2 separate regions of the Homo sapiens genome follow, and region 1 is linked to region 2. The links come from fine-mapping of genetic effects on plasma protein levels. A gene starts in region 2. The other region holds a variant in brackets. All regions are shown on one strand. Distances are between the middles of the regions.

Region 1 (10,141 bases), 57 kb before region 2:
CTGCTCTTCTGGCCCACATTCTTCCGAAGTTGTCAGGACTTATTTCTTACCTGCCGTCCTAAAAGCAGAGGGCCCCTTCTTAAGAAGGACTTTCTTCTCAGCATTAGTGCACTTGGGTCTCTTCTCTCTTTCCCTCTTCCTCTCACTCCATCATCATGAACACTAAGCTATCCTATTCCATCCTATTCCACTGGGTTATTATTATTATTATTGACACAGGGTCTCACTGTCACCCAGGCTGGAGTGCAGTGATATGATCTTGGCTCACTGCAACCTCCACCTCCTGGGCTCAAGTGATCCTCCTCCCTCAGCCTCCCAAGTAACAGGGACCACAGGTGCAAGCCACCATATCCAGCTAATTTTTATTTATTTATTTATTATTTATTTATTTATTTATTTTTTGAGACGGAGTCTCGCTCTGTCACCCAGGCTTGAGTGCAGTGGCACGATCTCAGCTCATGGCACCCTCTGCCTCCCAGGTTCAAGCAATCCTCCTGCTTCAGCCTCCCAAGTAGCTGGGATTACAGGTGCCCATCACTATGCCTGGCTACTTTTCATATTTTTAGTAGAGATAGAGTTTCACCATATTGGTCAGGCTGGTCTCAAACTCCTGACCTAGGATATCCACCCACCTCAGCCTCCCAATGTGCTGGGATTATGGGCGTGAGCCACCGTGCCTGAACACTCATTTTTATTTTTTGTAGAGATGGGGTTTTGCCATGTTGCCCAGTATGGTCTTGAACTCCTTGGCTCAAGCGATCCACTGGCCTTGGCCTCCCAAAGTGCTGGGATTACAGGTGTGAGCCACTGCACACAGCCTCCACTGGGTCTTATTTTCAGCTAATGGTTGTGGTTAGCAAATAGGTTAACTGTTTTAATTACACTGATAACTCCAAGACATGTGCACACTAGAAGATTTAAAGGCCACAAAGCCTTCAAAACTGTAGTACAGTGAGATGTTAACAATCTCAATTGTTCTCTTTTTCTTTTCTCTCTTTTTTTTTTTGACATGGGGTCTTGCTGTTTTGCCCAGGCTGGTCTCAAACTTCTGGGCTCAAATGAGCCTCCTGCCTCGGTCTCCTGCCTCTCTCTCTCTCTTTTTCAGAAGTTTAAGCAAACTTCTGGAGGGCAGGAATGAATTCATCTTTGTTATATCCTAATATCATAGTATCTGGTCATTTTAAGTTCTCAATACTTAATAGGATTTTTAATTTAAATAAAATTTTAAAACTTGCGCACAATTACACTGTGTCTTTAAAACCTAAGGTAATAATTATATTCCTGGGTACCAGGACCCGGAAGACCTGAATCTGGTCAGGTTCTGCCACCTATTAGCCATCTGCTCTTAGGCAAAGGCTCAATCTCTCTGAGCCTGTTTTTCCACTTGTAAATATTAACTACTAAATATTCTGAGTGTACTATATGCTGGGCACTGTGCCAAACACATTATACATTATCACATTTAGCCTTTACAAAAATCTTGTATGAAATGTATCATTCTCTTAAGTTTACCAATATGGAAATTGAGGCTGAGACAGACAAACTGGGTGACATGCTCAAAGCTGCATAGCAGTGAGCAGCAGAGCTGCAATATGAAGCTGGGTTGTCTTCTCCCAAATTTCGTGTTCTTAATCACTAAGCATTACTTTCCGTACAGAATTGTTATGCAGGCTAAATAGATAATGCATATAAGAGTGCTTTGTAAAACTATAATCCGCTATTTACTTTAGTTTGAACTGCAGAGATGAGCAGGGATGATACAAATATAAACGTGGTTTGTGTCATTTAGAAGCTCAGTTTAATGAATAATATTTAAAATATACTTTAGCGCAAATAAATATAACTCCTATGTATGGCTATATTAGAATACATCATATTCTATATGGTAAAAATCCATTATTATCATTATCATCCCCAATTTCAGAGAGGGAGAGTTACTTAACAAGAGGGCTTTCTAGAAGCTTCTCAGATCACTTTACTGTCCATGAGACAGAGCCTGCCCACTCATCTACACCATCTGTCATTAAGCTACTCTAAGAGACTGCGCTTAAGAGACAAATATTTAGAGAGTCCACAATCATAAATTATTTTAAACAAAAAAATTCATTACTGTGCCAGGTGCAGTGGCTCACGCCTGTAATCCTAACACTTTAGGAGGCCAAGGCAGGCAGATCACTTGAGCTCAGGAGTTCAAGACCAGCCTGGGCAACATGGTGAAACCCCACATCTACAAATACAAAAATTAACCAGGTGTGGTGGCACATGCCTATAGTCCCAGCTACTCTAGAGGCTGAGGTGGAAGGATTGCTTGAGCCTGGGAGGTAGAGGTTGCAGTGAGCTGAGATTGCGCCACTACACTCCAACCTGGGTGACAGAGTGAGACCCTTTCTCAAATAAATAAATAAATACATAACCCACTACTGTACCATCTGTTACCACATATTCTTGAACAAAATCTTTACTCTGTGATTTTAAGACCAACTTTAAAAAATAATTTTCATTTCTTATTTCGAGATTTAGAAGTGGCTAGTAACTGATCTGACTTTCTGTGCTTATATATATATATATATATATCACTTCAAAAGCCCTCAACTCACCTCTATTTTTCATTCATCTTTTTTTTTAAGTTGTGTTGGTATGGGTTTTCTTCCTTCATTGGGAAGACAGCTTTTAAAAGAACACATTCATTTTACAATCACACAAACACACACAAAAAACAGATATGTTCATTGCAGAAAATATGGAAAAACGTATCACTACTTTTAAAAACTATAAAAGCATTACCTGGTTTAATTGCATAAACGTCAAAATTTTCTATTCCTTCTTCTTTTAAGATATTTTCATCAATGACAAAGTTGCCAGTAAAACTTTTTGGCTTTTGGAAAATGGAATATGCTGCATCTGCAATGATATCAACTTTTCTACACTGGCTTTCGATACCAGGTCCTCCCAGCATATCCATAGCAGCAGTGTGTATGGCTGTAGAGAAAACACACACACACATACACTCATAACTCCAAATCAAATAATAAAACTATGGAAGTAACAAGCAAGCACCACCCTTCACAATTATCAAGGCTAATCCTTTCATTTCTTAGCTGATGAAAACAAAGTCCAGATTGCTTAAGGGATTTGCCAAATTTTTTTTGTTTTTTTGTTTTTATTTTTGTTTTTGAGACAGTCTTGCACTGTCACCCAGGCTGGGGTGCAATGGCGTGATCTCCGCTCACCGCAACCTCTGCCTCCTGGGTTCAAGTGATTGAACCCAGCCTTCTGAGTAGCTGGGATTACAGGCGTGCGCCACCACTGCTGGCAATTTTTTTGTATTTTTAATAGAAACGGGGTTTCACCATGTTGGCTGGTCTCGAACTCCTGACCTTGTGATCCGTCCGCCTCAGCCTCCCAAAGTGCTGGGATTACAGGCATGAGCCACCACGCCTGGCCCCAGGATTTACCAAATGTTCTACGGAGAGAACTGGGTGGAAAACACATGTTCCTTACCCTGCAACACTGCCTTATACTACAGACCAAACCATAAGACTCAAAGTAAAATTCAATGAACTTTCTGATTTAGAATGCTCAAGAATTTGCATGCCTGTTTAAGGAATAACTGAAGAGACCTCTAATAGCTTCCAATTGATTCTCCTGATAACAGCTAAGAGATTACTGCCTGAAAACAGACAGTACCAACAGTCTTAATGCCAAAGATTTCCTTTCACATAAACATATGGAGTGCGTATGAGGCTTAAAACATCAGCATTGCCTGTGATGACTCCTTCTCTGGGAAGAGAGCTTGTTTCGCCTCTTTAACACCTGTCAGCCACCACCAAACACATGCACACATTCTTGTGGGTATTCACTGAACCAACAATACCACTGATTATACAGTGCACCATTACTTTAGGGACCACTAAGGAAACAAAAAAGCTGCCAATTAAATTATGATATATCATCTATTGTAAGAAACAGACTGGTATCTGAGATGTACAAATATAAAGCATGGGCATCTCAGAATCAATGAAAGTAGTATAAACTCTTTCACCTAGTCAGTGAATAGGTTCCTTGAAAAACACTCAATAAATATTGGTTGGATTTCTGGGGGTCCTTTTTAAATTCACACAACACTGTTTTGTAGAAAATATTAGAAAATAGCTAGGTGCGGTGGCTCACGCCTGTAATCCC[G/A]GCACTGTGGGAGGCCGAGGTGGGTGGATCACTTGAGGTCAGGAGTTTGGGACAAGCCTGGTCAACATGGTGAAACCCCATCTCTACTAAAAATACAAAAATTAGCCAAGCATGGTGGCGAGCGCCTGTAGTCCCAGCTACTTGGGAGGCAGAGGTAGGAGAATTGCTTGAACCTGGGAGGCAGAGGTTGCAATGAGCTGAGATTACTCCACTGTTCTCCAGCCTGGGTGACAGAGCGAGACTCCGTCTCAAAAAAAAAAAAAAAAAGAAAAAAAGAAAAGAAAGAGAAGTAAAAGGAAAAAATTGCTTAATTAATTATAATTTCCCTATCCAGGGATAACTGCTGTTAATGTTTGCATAAAATTTTTACCATGTTAGGTGTACTTTTAAAATTATGTCTCTTATGTGAAGTAACTTTAAACTCTACAATTAACAGTACATTATTAATTACACATTGTCAACAGTAACATCTCAATTTTCTTACATATATCCTAGTTTACATCAAACAAGAAAAGTCTATTTATTTATTTATTTACTTTCCAACATAATTCATAGGTTCACAGAAAGTCAACTTATTTAAATGTACTTAGGTTTGTGAGTTTCTAGTATTTTAGTTAAAGCTTATTTCCATATATTGTTAAAATACAATTTTAAATTATTACATACTAGAATAACTTACATATTTTCATCTATAAGATGAAATGTCTGTAGCTTTTAAGAGCCATTGGCCCTTTTTCATTCATTTAACAAATAGTTATTAAGCACTTACTATATGTAAGTCAGGCGCTATTCTAGATATTAAGGACACAGATGTTGACAAAACAGACATAAGGCATCTACCTTCATGGAACTTACATCCCTATTTTGTTTAATGTTCAATTAATTTAGGGAATTTCTTGAAAGCACTGAGTTAGAAGACACTTTTCTACTTCATAACTAAAAATCATTTACTAGGAATAATTTTTTTTTTTTTTTTTTTTTTTTTGAGATAGGGTCTCACACTGTCACCCAGGCCAAAGGCAGTGGTGAGATCATGGCTCTCTGCAGCCTTGATCTCCTGGGCTCTCAAACGATCCTCCTACCTCACCCTCCCACCATATCCAGCTTTTTTTTTTGGTAGAAATGGGGTCCTGCTATGTTTCCCAGGCTGGTCTCCAACTCGTGGGCTCAAGCCGTCCTCCTGCCTTGGCCTTCCAAAGTGCTGGGATTACAGGTGTGAGCCACCGTGTCCAGCCCTAGAAATAATTTTTTCCTTAACCAACAGATCAAGAGCAAGAGCTCTGGTCTCACTCTTGAACTGATCCTTTATTAATAATAAAAAAAAAATAGCAGCTGAATGTTGTGGCTAGAGCCTATAATCCCAGATATTCTGGAGGCTGAGGCAGGAAGATTGCTTGAGCCTAGGAATTTGAGGCTGCAGTGAGCTATGACTGTGCCATTGCATTCTAGCCTGGGTGACAGAGTGAGACCCTATTTGTTTGTCAAAAAAACAGAAAAATTAAAAATGAATAAAATAAAATAAAAAATAGCACCTACCATTCATTAAGTGTACCCTGTGCCAGGCATGCTGTTACCTATTTTACATACATTATCTTACCTAATTCTTAGAACCCTGAGGTAGGTCCTGTTGTTATTCCCATTTTATAAATAGGAGCAGTGAAGCACAGAGAAGTTAAGTAACTTGCCCAAGGTCACAGAAGCTAAAATTCAAACACCCAGCAGCCTGACTTCAGAGCCAGGCTCTCATCCTTAATGCAACTAAATGGTTAACCTTGTTAACCAAAGTTCTTGGAGTTCAGTTATCATCTCACTCCCGAAAACTGCAGAACTTTTCTGTACATAATTGAGTATAATCTATTTTGAGACTATATGCATACATGCACACTGCTAGTCTCCATGTAAACTACATGAATTGTACAAGAATCCTTAAAAACTCTAAATTAGAAGTCTAATAAAATATGTCATGTATAAGTATATACATGCTGTGTGTGTGTGTGTGAGTGTCTATAGAATAAGAAATGTTCCTCCAACCTATCATTACTTTAACAATCTTTCTAGGAAAGATACAAAGAAGGTACAACTAGGCACTCAAAACTCAAGGAGTGGGCCATTGAGTATTTCTCAACACAGATTTTGCAATGCCAACAAGCTAACCCAATAGGTTAGAAAAAACTGGTAACAATAAAAGCAGGTTAACAGTAGGATCAATCAAATGAAATTCACTGATGATTTCTGGGAAAGAAAATAAGCAAAATTTATAATGAAAGCAGATAAGCCATGGATCACAAGAGTCAACAACATCGACCTGAAAACTTAAGTCTTATTAAGAAATAACTGAAGAGACATCTAATAGCTTCCAATTGATTCTCCTGATAACAGCTAAGAGATTACTGCCTGAAAACAGACAGTACCAACAGTCTTAAGACCAAAGATTTCCTTTCACATAAACATATGAAGTGTGTATGAGGCTTAAAATATCAGCATTGCCTGTGATGACTCCTTCTCTGGGAAGAGAGCTTGTTTCCCCTCTTTGACACCTGTCAGCCACCACCAAACATATCCACACACTCATGTGTGTATCCACTGAACCAATGATACCACTGATTATACAGCGCACCATTACCTTAGGGACCACTAAAGAAAGAAAAAAGCTGCCAATTAAACTATGATATATCATCCATTGTAAGATACAGACTGAGATCAGAGATGTACAAATATAAAGCATGGGCATGTCAGAATCAATGAAAATGGTATAAACTGTTTAACCTAGTTAGTGAACAGGTTTTGATTTCTAGCACCAGACAGGAAGGAGGTGAGCTGCCACCTTGTCGCCTCACCCTCCCTGGTTAGCTGAGTTCCCAAATCTATTTGTAATATAGTCCAGGTGACAGAAGTCTGCAGCTGCTCTGTGGTACTTCTACTGCCTTCCTCTCTGTAGCCATTACCAAATCAGTAGCTGCCATTCCCAGACTCCCCACCCCAAGCCCAAATCAAATCCACCCAAAAGTGGACTTTCCTGCTTCTACCATACTTGCCCAGACCAGTCATGAGGTAAGAGTAGGCATTGTGAATAGCAGCCATCATCCCTCTCCCCTTCCCCACCCTCCATTTCAGCAAGAACCATGAAACAGGTCTTATAAAAAGAAAAAAATTACAATTCTGGAGGTGACCTAGTTGGAAGCCTGAAATTCCATGTTGTGAAACAACTAGAGGCCGGCCCTCTGATCCTTTCTCTGGATGTGCTGAATTCAGCAGGGTGGAAGTGCTAAAACCAGGAGGAGCAATGAAGTCAGTGTTGAGAAGAACATGCAGCTGAGAAGCCAAGTGGGAGACCGGGACACTGCTCTGATTGAGGATAATGTATGTTACACTGTACCCACTCCGTTAAGCACAATAAATCTCCTTTTTCTTGAAAGGCAATAATGTTGGGAGATTACTTCTGGTTCCAGCTGACATAAAGAGAGTCACTCTACGCTGTCGTCTAAGATGAGGAGATGAGTGTTTTCTTTTAAATAGAGGCCTCTCAAACAGCCAAGAGCCTGAACACCCTCTCAAATCCATTTTCACTCCTCCATTTTCATTGCCTCACTCATGAATAATGTAATATTCTAGCTAGCTTTCCTGCCTCTTCTCTCTACAGTCTTACAAGCCATCCCATATTCAGATGCCAGATTAAACTTCCTAAACCTCATCAGCAACCATATTACTTCACTGCTCCTATTTTCCCCAGTTTATTATTAATCCTCTGCTTCTAAGATTCTTCAGTGGCTCTCCACTGAATATAGGTTAAAATTCAAGCTCCTAAACTTGGCAGACAAGACCATCCATCTCATCCATCTTCCCCACACTCTCAAACTCACCCAACATTCCAGTCAACCTGTACAACTTGAGTTGCTCAAGTTCAGTGGGAAATAACAAGCCCACACCCTATCATACATACACCAACCTTGTAGTTCCACCGCACAGAAAGTATTTTCCCAAACTGCAATCTTTGCATGCGTCGCTCCCTCTGCCAAGAAATGTCTTTCCCAGTTCTCCTTTTTGAAAAATTCCAACATCCCCTTGAGATCTCATTTCAATTGTTTACCTACTTTTGAAAATCTACTGCTCTGATCCTTTATCCTGAGCTACTATGTCTCAAAAGCACCCTGTAGGCCAGGCACGGTGGATCACACCTGTAATCCCAGCACTTTGGGAGGCTGAGGTGGGTGGATCACTTGAGGTCAGGAGTTCTAGAGCACCCTCGCCAATGTGGTGAAACCCCTGTCTCTACTAAAAAAAAAAATACAAAAATTAGCCAGGTGTGGTGGTGCATGCCTGTAGTCCCAGCTACTCAGGAGGCTGAGGCAGGATAATCACTTGAACTCAGGAGGCACAGGTTTCAGTGAGCCGAGATGGCGCCACTGCATTCCAGCCTGGGTGACAGAGATTCTGTCTCAAAAAACAAAAACAAAACACAACATCCAGTACATAATTCATCATACCATGCACCACAAGGAACATGACTGTAAATTGGATTTAGTGTGTCATCAAGTCTAGGACCAAATAACATCACTGGCTCCAAGATGTCTAGTAAACCTTCTAAAATGAATATCTTGAAGCTAAAGCAAAGATCTCAGCAATGAGCTGATTTTTCCTGCTGGACCAGATAATGCCCTCTATATTCCCTGATACAGAACATTCTGCCTATTATATAAGCTTTGTCCAGAATATATTTTGGAGCTAGGCAGAAGGTAATCATATTGCACATTCATTCACTCATTTACTCACTCATCAAATATTTATTGAATGTCTACAATGACTATAATAAAACAAACAAAGCAAACACTGTCCCTATCCTCAAGAAGTTTTCATTCTAGCAAAGAAGACACTGAACAACCATAATTATAAATTAATAATTACAAACGGTGTAAGTGATGTGAAGGGGATGTACAGACTACTAAACCTGACGATCAGTCCCATTTTGTAAGAACTATCAGCATAATCTGACACAATTGATCACTCCCTGTATTAGTCTGTTCTCGCATTACTATAAAGAAATACCTAGGCTCGGCACAGTGGCTCACACCTGTAATCCCAGCACTTTGGGAGGCCTAGGTGGGTGGATCACCTGAGGTCAGGAGTTCAAGACCAGACTGGTCAACATGGTGAAACCCCGTCACTACTAATAATACAAAAAAATTAGCCAGGTGTGGTGGCGCACGCCTGTAATCCCAGCTACTCAAGAGGCTGAGGCAGGAGAATCGCTTGAACCTGGGAGGCGGAGGTTGCAGTGAGCTGAGATCGCACCACTGCACTCCAGTCCAGCCTGGGCAACAGAGCAAGACTCCGTCTCAAAAAAAAAAAAAAAAAAGAAAGAAATACCTGAGACTGGGTAATTTATAAAAGAGGTTTAACTGGCTCACAGTTCTGCATGCTGTACAAGCATGGCTCCAACATCACTTGGCTTCTGGGGAGGCCTTGGGGAGCTTGTACTCACGGTGGAAGGTGAAGAGGGAGCAGGCACGTCACATGGCAAAAGCAGGAACAAGAGAGCCAGGTGGTGTGCTACACACTTTTAAAAACGAGATGAGAACTCACTCACTATGGTGAGGGCAGTACCAAGGAGGATGGTGCTAAACCGTTCAGGAGAAAGCTGCCCCCATGATCCAATCACCTCCCACCAGACCCCACCTCCAACACTGGGGGTGACATTTTGACATGAGATTTGGGTGGAGACAACATCCAAACTGTATCACTCCCCAAGCTCCTTCTTCAGTCGGCTTTCATCTCCTCTTTCATCTTCCTTTCATCTTCCTACCTTACTCTCCTATGTGGGTCTTCCTCTTCTTCCCAACCTTTCAATGTTGAAATGGACAATAGTCCTTTCTCTTCTACTCACTGCCTAGATGGTATCATGTAGTTTTGTGGCTTTTTATATGTTCTATATGCTGATAACCCACAGATTTTTTTATCTCCA
Region 2 (10,141 bases):
TGATTCCCAGTAGGAGAAAGGGCATTTTCTTCCTCACTCAGAGTCTCTGGCATTGGCAGAAAAAAAAGCAAACATAACCCTGATCTGTGCCAGTAAGAAGTCCTCCAGCTCCAAAGCATTAGTACCAGAATATAGAAGGCAAGAGCACTTCAAAGAAGGCTCCAAATTTCTTAGTATTATTGATAGATGGCTAAAACTTGCTGATGAAGAGCTAACTTACAGTTTAATTTACTAAAATTCTCTGGTACCCCAAAATCAGGTAAAAGTACTGAAATTTTTAGTAAAAGGAAGAACAACTGTTTCCAAAAAACTATACAAATTATTCTAAACTTCATTTGGAAAAATAAATACCCAAGTATAACCAGGAAAATTCTGAAAAATAATCCAAATGTGGTGGGAACTAGCTTTCCCACATATTAAAACATTTTGTAAAACTAGAGCAATTAAAATAGTTTGGGCTGGGTAGAGTGGCTCACATCTGTAATCCTAGCACTTCGGGGGCTGAGGCAGGAGGATCACTTGAGCCCAGGAGTTTGAGACCAGCCTGGGCAACAAAGTGAGACTCCTCTACAAAAAAATTTTTTAAAAATAGCCAGGCATTATGGCGCATGTCTATAGTCCCACCTAATTGGGAAGATGAGCTGGGAGGACTGCTTAACCCCAGGAGATCAAGGCTGCAGTGAACTATGATGGTGCCAATGCACCCCAGCCTGGGTGACAGAGCGAGGCCCTGTCTCAATTAATTAATTAAGTAAACAGTCTGGTACTGGTACATGAATAGAGACTAAAGTAGCAGAGCAGAAAGTCCAGAAACAGAGCGCTATATGTGCAAGAATTTAATATACAACAGAGGTAGAATTTCGAGCAGAAGAGAAAAGATTAACTCTTAGGTCAATGCTGCTAGGACAAATGAGCAGCCATCTGAAGAAAAATCAAGTGGGCTTCCTAACTCACTTCCTGAAAGAAATCTCAGGGGGATAAAAAAATCTGACTATAAAAAATATAGACAATACAAATATATTTGAAAAATACAAAAATATAAGACCATAAAAATATCAGAAGAAAACTAATTATAAAAAGATCTGCCCAGGCACGGTGGCTCACACCTGTAATCCCAGCATGTTGGGATGCCGAGTCAGGAGGATTACTTGAGGTCAGGAGTTTGAGACCAGCCTGGCCAACATGGTGAAACTCCATCTCTACTAAAATTACAAAAATTAGCCGGCATGGTGGTGTGCGCCTGTAATCCCAGCTACTTGTGAGGCTAAGGCAGGAGAACCACTTAAACCTGGGAGGCAGAGGTTGCAGTGAAACGAGATCGCACCACTGCACTCAAGCCTGGGCAACAGAGCAAGATTCCATCTCAAAAAAAGAAAGACAGAAAGAAAGATCTCGGTTTAACTCAAAGGCATACAGAGCAAGATTCCATCTCAAAAAAAAGAAAGACAGAAAGAAAGATCTCGGTTTAACTCAAAGGCTTACAGAGCAAGACTCCATCTCAAAAAAAAAAAAAAAGATCTTGGTTTAACTCAAAAATGCAAAAGCCTTAAGAGACTGATAACTCTGGCTTCACAAAAACATGTTTCTCCATGTTAAATAAACAGTATAATCAAAGTCCAGATGCAACATGAAAAACTGTGGAAAATATTTGTAATGTGATAAAAGACAAATTTTTAAAATACACAGAGCCCTCAGAGATTAACGAAAAACCTCATTTGTTAAGCCAGACAAATATAAAGATACATAGATGGCTTTAAACCAGGGTTTCTCAACCTCTGCACTACTGACCTTTTGGACTACATAATTCTTTGTTGTACGGAATGCTTGTGAATTGTAGGATGTGCACCAGCATCCCTGTACTCTACTCACGAGATGCCATTAGCATCTCCATTCAATTGTGACTATCAAAAATGTCTTGAGATATTACCAAATGTCCTCTGGGGATCAAATTGTCCCTGGTTTAAATACACAAAGAGATCCAAATCCACACTTGTGATAAAATAAATGCAAATTTTAACAATAATGAGGTGACACTTTTTTCTCTAATTAGATTTTCATCATTAACTATTTTGCGGTTAGCCAACAAGTGGGATTAGAGGATCTCATTTATCCTTTTGGGTGTGCAACCCTTCTGGGGGGTCATCTGGAAATATCTGTCAAAATATAAAGTGCATTTCCTCTTTTTTCTTTTTGAGACAGACTCTCACTCTCTCTCGCAGGGTGGAGGGCAGGGCAGTGGCATGATCTCGGCTCACTGCCACCTCCGCCTCCAGGTTCAAGCGGTTCTCCTGCCTCAGCCTCCTGAGTAGCTGGGATTACAGGTGCCCGCTACCAGGTCCAGCTAATTTTTGTATTTGTAATTTTTGTAATTTTGTAGTTTTAGTGGAGACGGAGTTTCACCACGTTGGCCAGGCTGGTCTCGAACTCTTGACCTCCAGTGATCCGCCCGCCTCGGCCTCCCAAAGTGCTGGGACTACAGGCGTGAGCCACTGTGCCCAGCCACATTTACTCTTTGATCCAGCAATTTCACTTCCAGGAGTTTATCCTACATATACACTTATATATGTGCAAATAGATAAATACAAGTATAATTATGGAAGCAAAAAAAGAGTATCCAAAAAACTGGAAACAGTCTAGTATCCAACAATAGGGAACAGGTTAAATAAACAAAGGTATATTCATATACAGGTTGAGCAAACCAAATCTGAAAATCTGAAATCCGAACACGTCTGGAACCAAGCATTTTGGATAATGGATACTCAAGCTGTTACAGAATATTATGCAACCATTAAAAAGGAGGAGGGGCCAGGCGCAGTGGCTTACGCCTGTAATCCCAGCACTTTGGGAGGCCGAGGCAGACGGATCACGAGGTCATGAGATTGAGACCATCCTGGCTAACATGGTGAAACCCCGTCTGTACTAAAAATACAAAAAAATCAACAGGGCGTGGTGGCACGCGCCTGAAGTCCCAGCTACTCGGGAGGCTGAGGCAGGAGAATTGCGGGAGGCGGAGGCTGCAGTGAGCCGAGATCATGCCACTGCACTCCAGACTGGAAGACAGAGCGAGACTCCATCTCAAAAGAAAAAAAAAGGAGGCGGAAGATCTGCCATGTACTAAAAATGTATGTCCCTGGGCACAGCGGTGCATGCCTGTAATCCTAAATACTCCAGAGGCTAAGAAGGGAGGAACATCAGCCTGGGAGTTCAAGGCTACAGGCCAGTCTGGGCAACATGGGAGACCCCGTCTTTAAAAAAAACAAAGAAAGAATGTCCCAAGACATACCAACTAAAAGTAGCAAGACCAAGAATAGAGTCTGCTGCTATTTTTAAGAAAGGGTATGTGTGTGTGTGTGTGTGTGTGTGTGTGTATCCGGATGTATACAAATTATGTTCATACATGCACGAAATAGAAACGTAAGTAACTGGGGAACTAGATTTTAGGGATGGGGAGACTCACTTTTTACCCTATACTCTTTGAACTGTTTTAAGTCTTTGGCTATATGCCTGCATGTTTCAGGCAAATTACAAAATCTGACAACACGTCACTCAACTCAAGATACCCAGACCTTACATAAACCAGAAAGTAGAATGGTGGTTGCCAATGTACGAGCGGAGGTGGGGAAGAGGAGTTGTTTCATGGATAGAGTTTCAGCTTGCAGATGAAAAAAGTTCTGGAGATTGACTGCACAACGATATGAATCTACTTAACACTACTGAAGTGTACACTTAAAAAACGGTTAAGATGGCAGATTTTGTACGTATTTTAACACAATTTTTTAAGGTGAAAAAAAAATCCCCCAAAGATACCCATGTTTTAAGATCGGTTTAGTTTCTAATTTGGAAATCATTTTTTAAACACTCCATTATTACTCTAGAATTGAGCGTCAGGAACAAGTGAAAACTCTTTAAACTCTGGAGCTGCTCCTGCGACCTTTCACCTAGAACTCACACGCATTCGGCCAGGCACGCACTCCTGCTAAACTCAGGGAGGGCCGGCACTGGGGGCGGCGTGGTGACTCCCCCTCGGCCCTTTACCCGTGGAAAAGGTTTCTACACTGCTGCCATCCTGTAATACAAAAGTTTGTGTTCCTTTTCACACGTTACCGCAGATTCTCGGTGCACAGTGCCCAGCGCGGACCAGAGCTCAGAGCGTGCCCAGGCAGTATCCTTGACCTCCCACAGCCGGGCCGGCCAGCCCGGGCGATCCGCGGCGGCCCCACCGAGACGCGCCCTTCGCCCGACAGGGTCTCTCCCCGCGCCGCCCCTACCCCCTTACCCGGTGTTGGGTAACATGACTTTCGTAGATCAGAGGAGGTGGCGGCGACAGCGGCGGCGGCGAGCAGAGAGCTAAAGCTGGACCGTCCCTCCGCATTTATCCCCGCCCCTGCCCCGCCCCTGCCCCCCCCGATGCCTGTGCGGGAACTGCGCGCGGAAAAGCCGGGATCGCCGAGTGCGCCTGCGTATGCAGTGGGCCTCCTGCGCCCAGCGTTCCTCTTCGTCGCCTCCCAAGCCTGGTCCCTGATTGCAGGCTCTCCGCGCAGGCGCTTTGAGGCACAGCTCCGCCCCGCCCCCTCACTGGTCGTACGGTGACAATCAGGCTCCTGTCGGCGCCTAGCGTCTGGGCAGCGTCAGCCGCTACGTCCACCTTTTCCCTGTCTCTAGGGGTTTCTCCTCGCGCCGCTGTGTTCCAGCGCCGGCTCCGAGCTGGGAGGGTGACTGAGCCCTGAGCTTGGGCCCTCCGAGAGGTGCGTTAGCTCTGGGTCTTCTTGCCCCTACGCCCGAGCCTGGCGTTCTCTCGGCCCCCTCTTAGGAACGCTAGCCCTGGGCAGAAATTGCCTTTGTGGCTGAAGTCGGCCAGCGTCGCGTTTCCACTCTCCCGCCGAATCTGGACCCAAGCCAGCCTTCCCTTGTGCATCGGTAGATAGCTTGTGTTAAGGCGCCAGCTTCTTGGAACAGAGCTCTCTGCAAAAGTCGCGCTGAAGAATTCATAGTCAAAAGCTGAACTTGCAGAAGTTTCTACTTCTGGAATGAGTGTTGAAATGAGATCAATTCTGACATTCAGTTTCGCTTTTGGGATTATGCCTTGGACTAACTCAGCTACTCTGATGAGCTAAAGACTGTAGTATATTTGAAGGAAGACACGAGGAACTGTTTTGTATTTTGTAGGGATAGAACAGGACCTTGAGGAGATTATTATATGAAGACTAGTTAAAGAAACTAGCCTGGAGATGGCTTATGTACTCTCTCCTTTGTTTTTGTTTTGTTTTTTGAGACGGAGTCTCGCTGTCGCCCACGCTGAAGTGCAGTGGCGCGGATCTCGGCTCATTGTAACCTCCGCCTCCCGGGTTCAAGTGATTCTCCTCCCTCAGCCTCCGGAGTAGCTGGGACTACAGGCATGCATCACCACGCCTGGCTAATTTTTTTGTGTTTTTAGTAGAGACGGGGTTTCGCCATGTTGGGCTGGCTGGTCTCGAGCTCCTGACCTCAAATGATTGGCCCGCCTCGGCCTTCCAAAGTGCTGGGATTACAGGCGTGAGCCTCCGCGCCCGGCCTCTCTCCCCTTTGTTATGGGCCCTAAATGACTCTATTTCCTCCTGCATATCACCTGCCCGACTCCTGTAGGCATTTGAATTGATGATTCATGATACGGTCTTTAGAGGCTCCAGAGGAATTTGCAAATTATTATCATCCACTAAGTGATTGCTGATTACCTGAGATACAGCAGCTCAAAAAGGACAAGGTCTCTGCCTATGGGAGGTATGAGTAGCCAGTGTGTTCTTTAGACTGTTGTTAAGCATTAGGTGTTTTAAGAAGAGTGTTGATAGAGACTGTTAGATGAAAATAACTTACTCTCCTCTCATCCTTAGGAGCACTTGCTGAAGCGTGTATATATCTGTCGAATAGAGTGAATTCTTAGTAACGGGGTGACATTTCCTTCATATCATCTAAAATGTTCTCTCCTTTTTGAAAGCCACAATATCTTCAGTCTGTTAGAGCCTCCTTTCTTGAATTTGTGTGCTTCTATTTCCATTTGTTACGGAAAGAGAGCTCAACGAAGAGGCAAAGCAAACAAAAAACCTTTGCCAATTTTTCAGTCATAACGATATTTTGTGAGCCTAAATACCTGTACTTACACTATTTTTATACTTTGCGATGGCTTTCACAGAAGGCAAATATATTCCTAAATTATTAGAGGTAGTTTTACCAAGCAAGTTTAAATCCATTGTATTCAGTACTTTGACTAGAGTTCATTTAAAGTGTGATTTGGAGTTACCCATGACCTTCTACCCCATTACCTTGATTAACCTAGTGTTAGATTAATGCTAGAGGTGAGGAATGGGTGAAGGAGAGGACTTGTGAACATAATTAGATCTTCATTTTGGAAGGTGAATAATTTTGGCTTAGAACACTTCTGACTGCAGCATGAAGAATAGTTTGTGAGTAGATAAAGGCACAGAAGCCATTTAAAAGCCCATAGTAATGTAATGTGTAAGAAAAGTAGTAACCTGAACTAAGGCAGTAATAGTAGAAATGAAAAGACATACTCAAGATATGGAACCTGGCAGATGTAACTAATGATTAGATGTAGGAGCAAAGGGGGAAGATGGTATCAGTGGTGACCTTCAGATTTCTGGTGTAAAGTCCTGGGAGGATGGTGATAACACAGTAAAGAAGTGAAAACAAATGGTTTGAAAAATAGATGTCTTGAAAGTCAGGTAAGTCTCACTCATTTCACCCCTTCTCAGCTTGATAAAACTACCTAAAAATGCAACAGTTTCCTGACAGACTACTGGTTACAACACATTCTCCCAACCAATTTATATCCCTTAAGTTTTGGTTATATGCAACATTAATGTAATTTGGCTAATTTAAACCAAATTAAAGGGGTTGGAGAATTTAGAAGAATTCTGGGATAGTTTATATAACTTAAGGAAGAGCTGAACAACTAAGCTTGACAATGGGAACTAAGGTGCTTCCATGATCCTCAGCAGCATGATCTTTCTAGAATGCATTGTAGGTGGCTTCCCTGTCTTTTCTGTGTATCTGTTCAAGCTTCAAATACTAAGACAGTCTAGTACAATGTGTTTCGTTTTGTTTTGTTTTTTTGAGATAAGATCTTGCTCTGTCACCCAGGCTGGAGTGTAGCAGCATGATCATGGCTCACTGTAGCCTCAACCTCCTGGGCTCAGCCACCCAAGTAGCCAGGACCACGGGCATGTGCCACCACACCTGGCTAATTTTACTTTTTATAGACACAGGGGTCTCACTATGTTGCCCAGGTTGGTCTTGAACTCCTCACCTCAAGCAATCCTCCCACCACACAGCCTTCCAAGGTGCTGGGAAATGTTTCAACCTGTAAATTAGTTGGCCATGGCCAGGGACACAAGTGGATATGGACAATGGGGAAGTAACACAACATTGCATACCTACCTACCCCAGGTCATGGAAGTTGCGTAAATGTAGAGCAAGTAAATTGGCATTCATAATTCTGGGAAGAAAGGGGTCATAAAACTTTTTATTTCATAGGGCTTGTGATGGTTAATACTGAGTGTCAACTTGATGGTATTGAAGGATGCAAAGTATTGGTCTTGGGTGTATCTGTGAGGGTATTGCCAAAGGACATTAACATTTGAGTCAGTGGGCTGGGAAGGGCAGACCCACCCTTAATCTGAGTGGGTACCATCTAATCAGCTGCCAGTGAATATAAGACAGGCAGAAAAACCTGAAAAGATGAGACTGGCCTAGCCTCCCAGCCTACATCCTTCTCCTGTGCGTTTATCCCCTTCTTGCCCTCCAACATCAGACTCCAGGTTCAGTTTCGGGACTTGGACTGGCTCTCCTTGCACCTCAGCTTGCAGATGGCCTATTATGGGACCTTGTGATCATGTGAGTTAATACTTAATAGGCTGGGCGCGGTGGCTTATGCCTGTAATCCCAGCACTTTGGGAGGCCGAGGCAGGCGGATCACAAGGTCAAGAGATGGAGACCATCCTGGCCAACGTGGTGAAACCCCATCTCTACTAAAAATACAAAAAGTAGCTGGGCGTGGTAGCACACACCTGTAGTCCCAGCTACTCGGGAGGCTAAGGCAGGAGAATCGCTTGAACCTGGGAGGCGGAGGTTGCAGTGAGCGGAGACCACGCCACTGCACTCCAGCCTGGTGACAGACCGAGACTCTTTCTCAAAAAAAAAAAAAAAAAAAACTTAATAAACTCCCCTACACACACACACACACACACACACACACACACACACACGTATATAAGGAAGTAATAGGATATATATATATATATATATATCCTCTAGAGAACCCTGACTAATACGGATTTTGGTACCAGAAGTAGGGTCCAGAACAGGAGAAGGCTCTGCAACAGGTCCAGGCTGCTGTGCAAGCTGTTCTGCCACTTGGGCCATATGACCCAGCAGATCCAATAGTGCTTGAGGGATGAGTGGCAGATAGGGATGCTATTTGGAGCCTTTGCCAGGCCACCATAAATGAATCACAGTGGAGGCCTCTAGGATTTTGGAGCAAGACCCTGCCTTCTTCTGCAGATAACTACTCTCCTTTTGAGAGACAGCTCTTAGCCTGTTACTGGGCTTTGGTGGAAACTGAACGTTTGACTATGGGTCATTAAGTCACCATGTGACCTGAACTGCCTATCATGAACTGGATGCTTTCTGACCCATCTAGCCATAAAGTGGGTCGTGCACAGCAGTATTCCATCATCAAGTGGAAGTGTTATATGCATGATTGGGCTCTAGCAGGTCCTGAAGGCACCTGAGGAATAAGTTACATGAGGAAGTGGCTCAAATGCTCATGGTCTCCGCTCGTGCCACCCTGCCTTCTTTGCCCTAGCCTGCACCAGTGGCCTCATGGGGAGTTCCCTATGATCATGATCAGTTGACATGATCAGTTGACAGAGGAAGAGAAGACTAGGGCCCGGTTCACAGATGGTTTTGCATGATACGCAGGCATCATCTGAAAGTGGACAGCTGCAGCACTACAGCCCCTTTCTAGGACATCCCTGCAGGCCAGCAATAAAGGGAAATCTTCCCAGTGGGCAGAACTTCCAGCAGTGCACCTGGATGTGCACTTTGCATGGAAGGAGAAATGGCCAGATGTATGATTATACACTAATTCATGGGCGGTAGCCAGTGATTTGGCTGGATGGTCAGGGACTTGGAAGAAGCAAGATTGGAAAATTGGTGACAATAAAATTTGGGGAAGAGGTATGTAGATGGACCTCTCTGAATGCTCAAAAACTGTGAAGTGCTAACCAACGGGTGACCTTAGCAGAGGAGGATTTTAATAATCAAGTGGATAGGATGACTCGTTCTGTGGACACCACTCAGCCTCTTTCCCCAACCACCCCTGTCATCATCCAGTGGACCCGTGAACAAAGTGGCCATGGTGGCAGGGATGGAGGTTATTCATGGGCAACAGGGACTTCCACTCACCAAGGCTGACCTGGCTACAGCCACTGCTGAGTGCCCAATTTGCCAGCAGCAGAGACCAACACTGAGCCCTCAATATGGCACAGTTCCTCATGGTGATAAGCCAGCTACCTGGTGGCAGGTTGATTATATTGAACCTCTTCCATCATGGAAAAGGCAGAGGTTTGTCCTCACTGGAATAGACACTTACTCTGGATATGGGTTTGCCTATCTTGTACACAATGCTTCTGCCAAGACTACCATCCATGGACTCACAGAATGCCTTATCCACTGTCGTGGTATTCCACACAGCATTGCCTCTGAACAAGATACTTACTTTATGGCTAAAGAAGTGTGGCAGTGGGCTCATGCTCATGGAATTCACTGGTCTTACCATGTTCCCCATCATCTTGAAGCAGCTGGATTGATAGAACAGTGGAATGGCCTTTTGATGTCACAATTACAACACCAACTAGGTGACAATACTTTGCAGGGCTGGGGCAAAGTTCTCCAGAAGGTTGTGTATGCTCTGAATCAGTGTTCAATATATGGTACTGTTTCTCCCATAGCCAGGATTCATGGGTCCAGGAATCAAGGGGTAGAAGTGGAAGTGGCACTACTTACCGTAACGCCCAATGATCCACTAGCAAATATTTGCTTCCTGTTCCTGTGACATTACATTCTGATGGCCTAGAGGTCTTAGTTC

Direction of the effects. Positions count from the first base shown, and alleles are read on the strand shown. Strength reflects both the effect of a copy and how common the allele is.
With allele A in place of G in region 1, the plasma level of the protein whose gene starts at base 4,349 in region 2 is higher (strong association).

The links. PIP is the chance, under the fine-mapping model, that this variant and not a neighbour inherited with it causes the effect. The UK Biobank Pharma Proteomics Project read protein levels with antibody pairs (Olink). The fine-mapping took linkage between variants from a reference panel, not from the people measured, so its PIPs are less certain.
Region 1: its variant is fine-mapped to the plasma level of the HSDL2 protein (UK Biobank, PIP above 0.99).

Annotation. Positions count from the first base shown.
Region 1 is chr9:112,431,269-112,441,409 of GRCh38, reverse strand. It overlaps HSDL2 (hydroxysteroid dehydrogenase like 2), which reads right to left. Exons shown (of 11, transcript NM_032303.5): 7 at 2,785-2,979. Among named protein-coding and RNA genes, the nearest start is that of KIAA1958, 50 kb to the left of the region's middle. The variant G/A (reference allele first, on the strand shown) is at 4,183.
Region 2 is chr9:112,374,316-112,384,456 of GRCh38, reverse strand. It overlaps HSDL2 (hydroxysteroid dehydrogenase like 2), which reads right to left and starts at 4,349. Exons shown (of 11, transcript NM_032303.5): 1 at 4,277-4,349. The coding sequence starts at 4,293. It also overlaps a transcript of PTBP3 not described here. RefSeq lists a silencer at 4,146-4,395 and enhancers at 4,616-4,735, 4,167-4,766, 4,766-5,015, 5,116-5,165.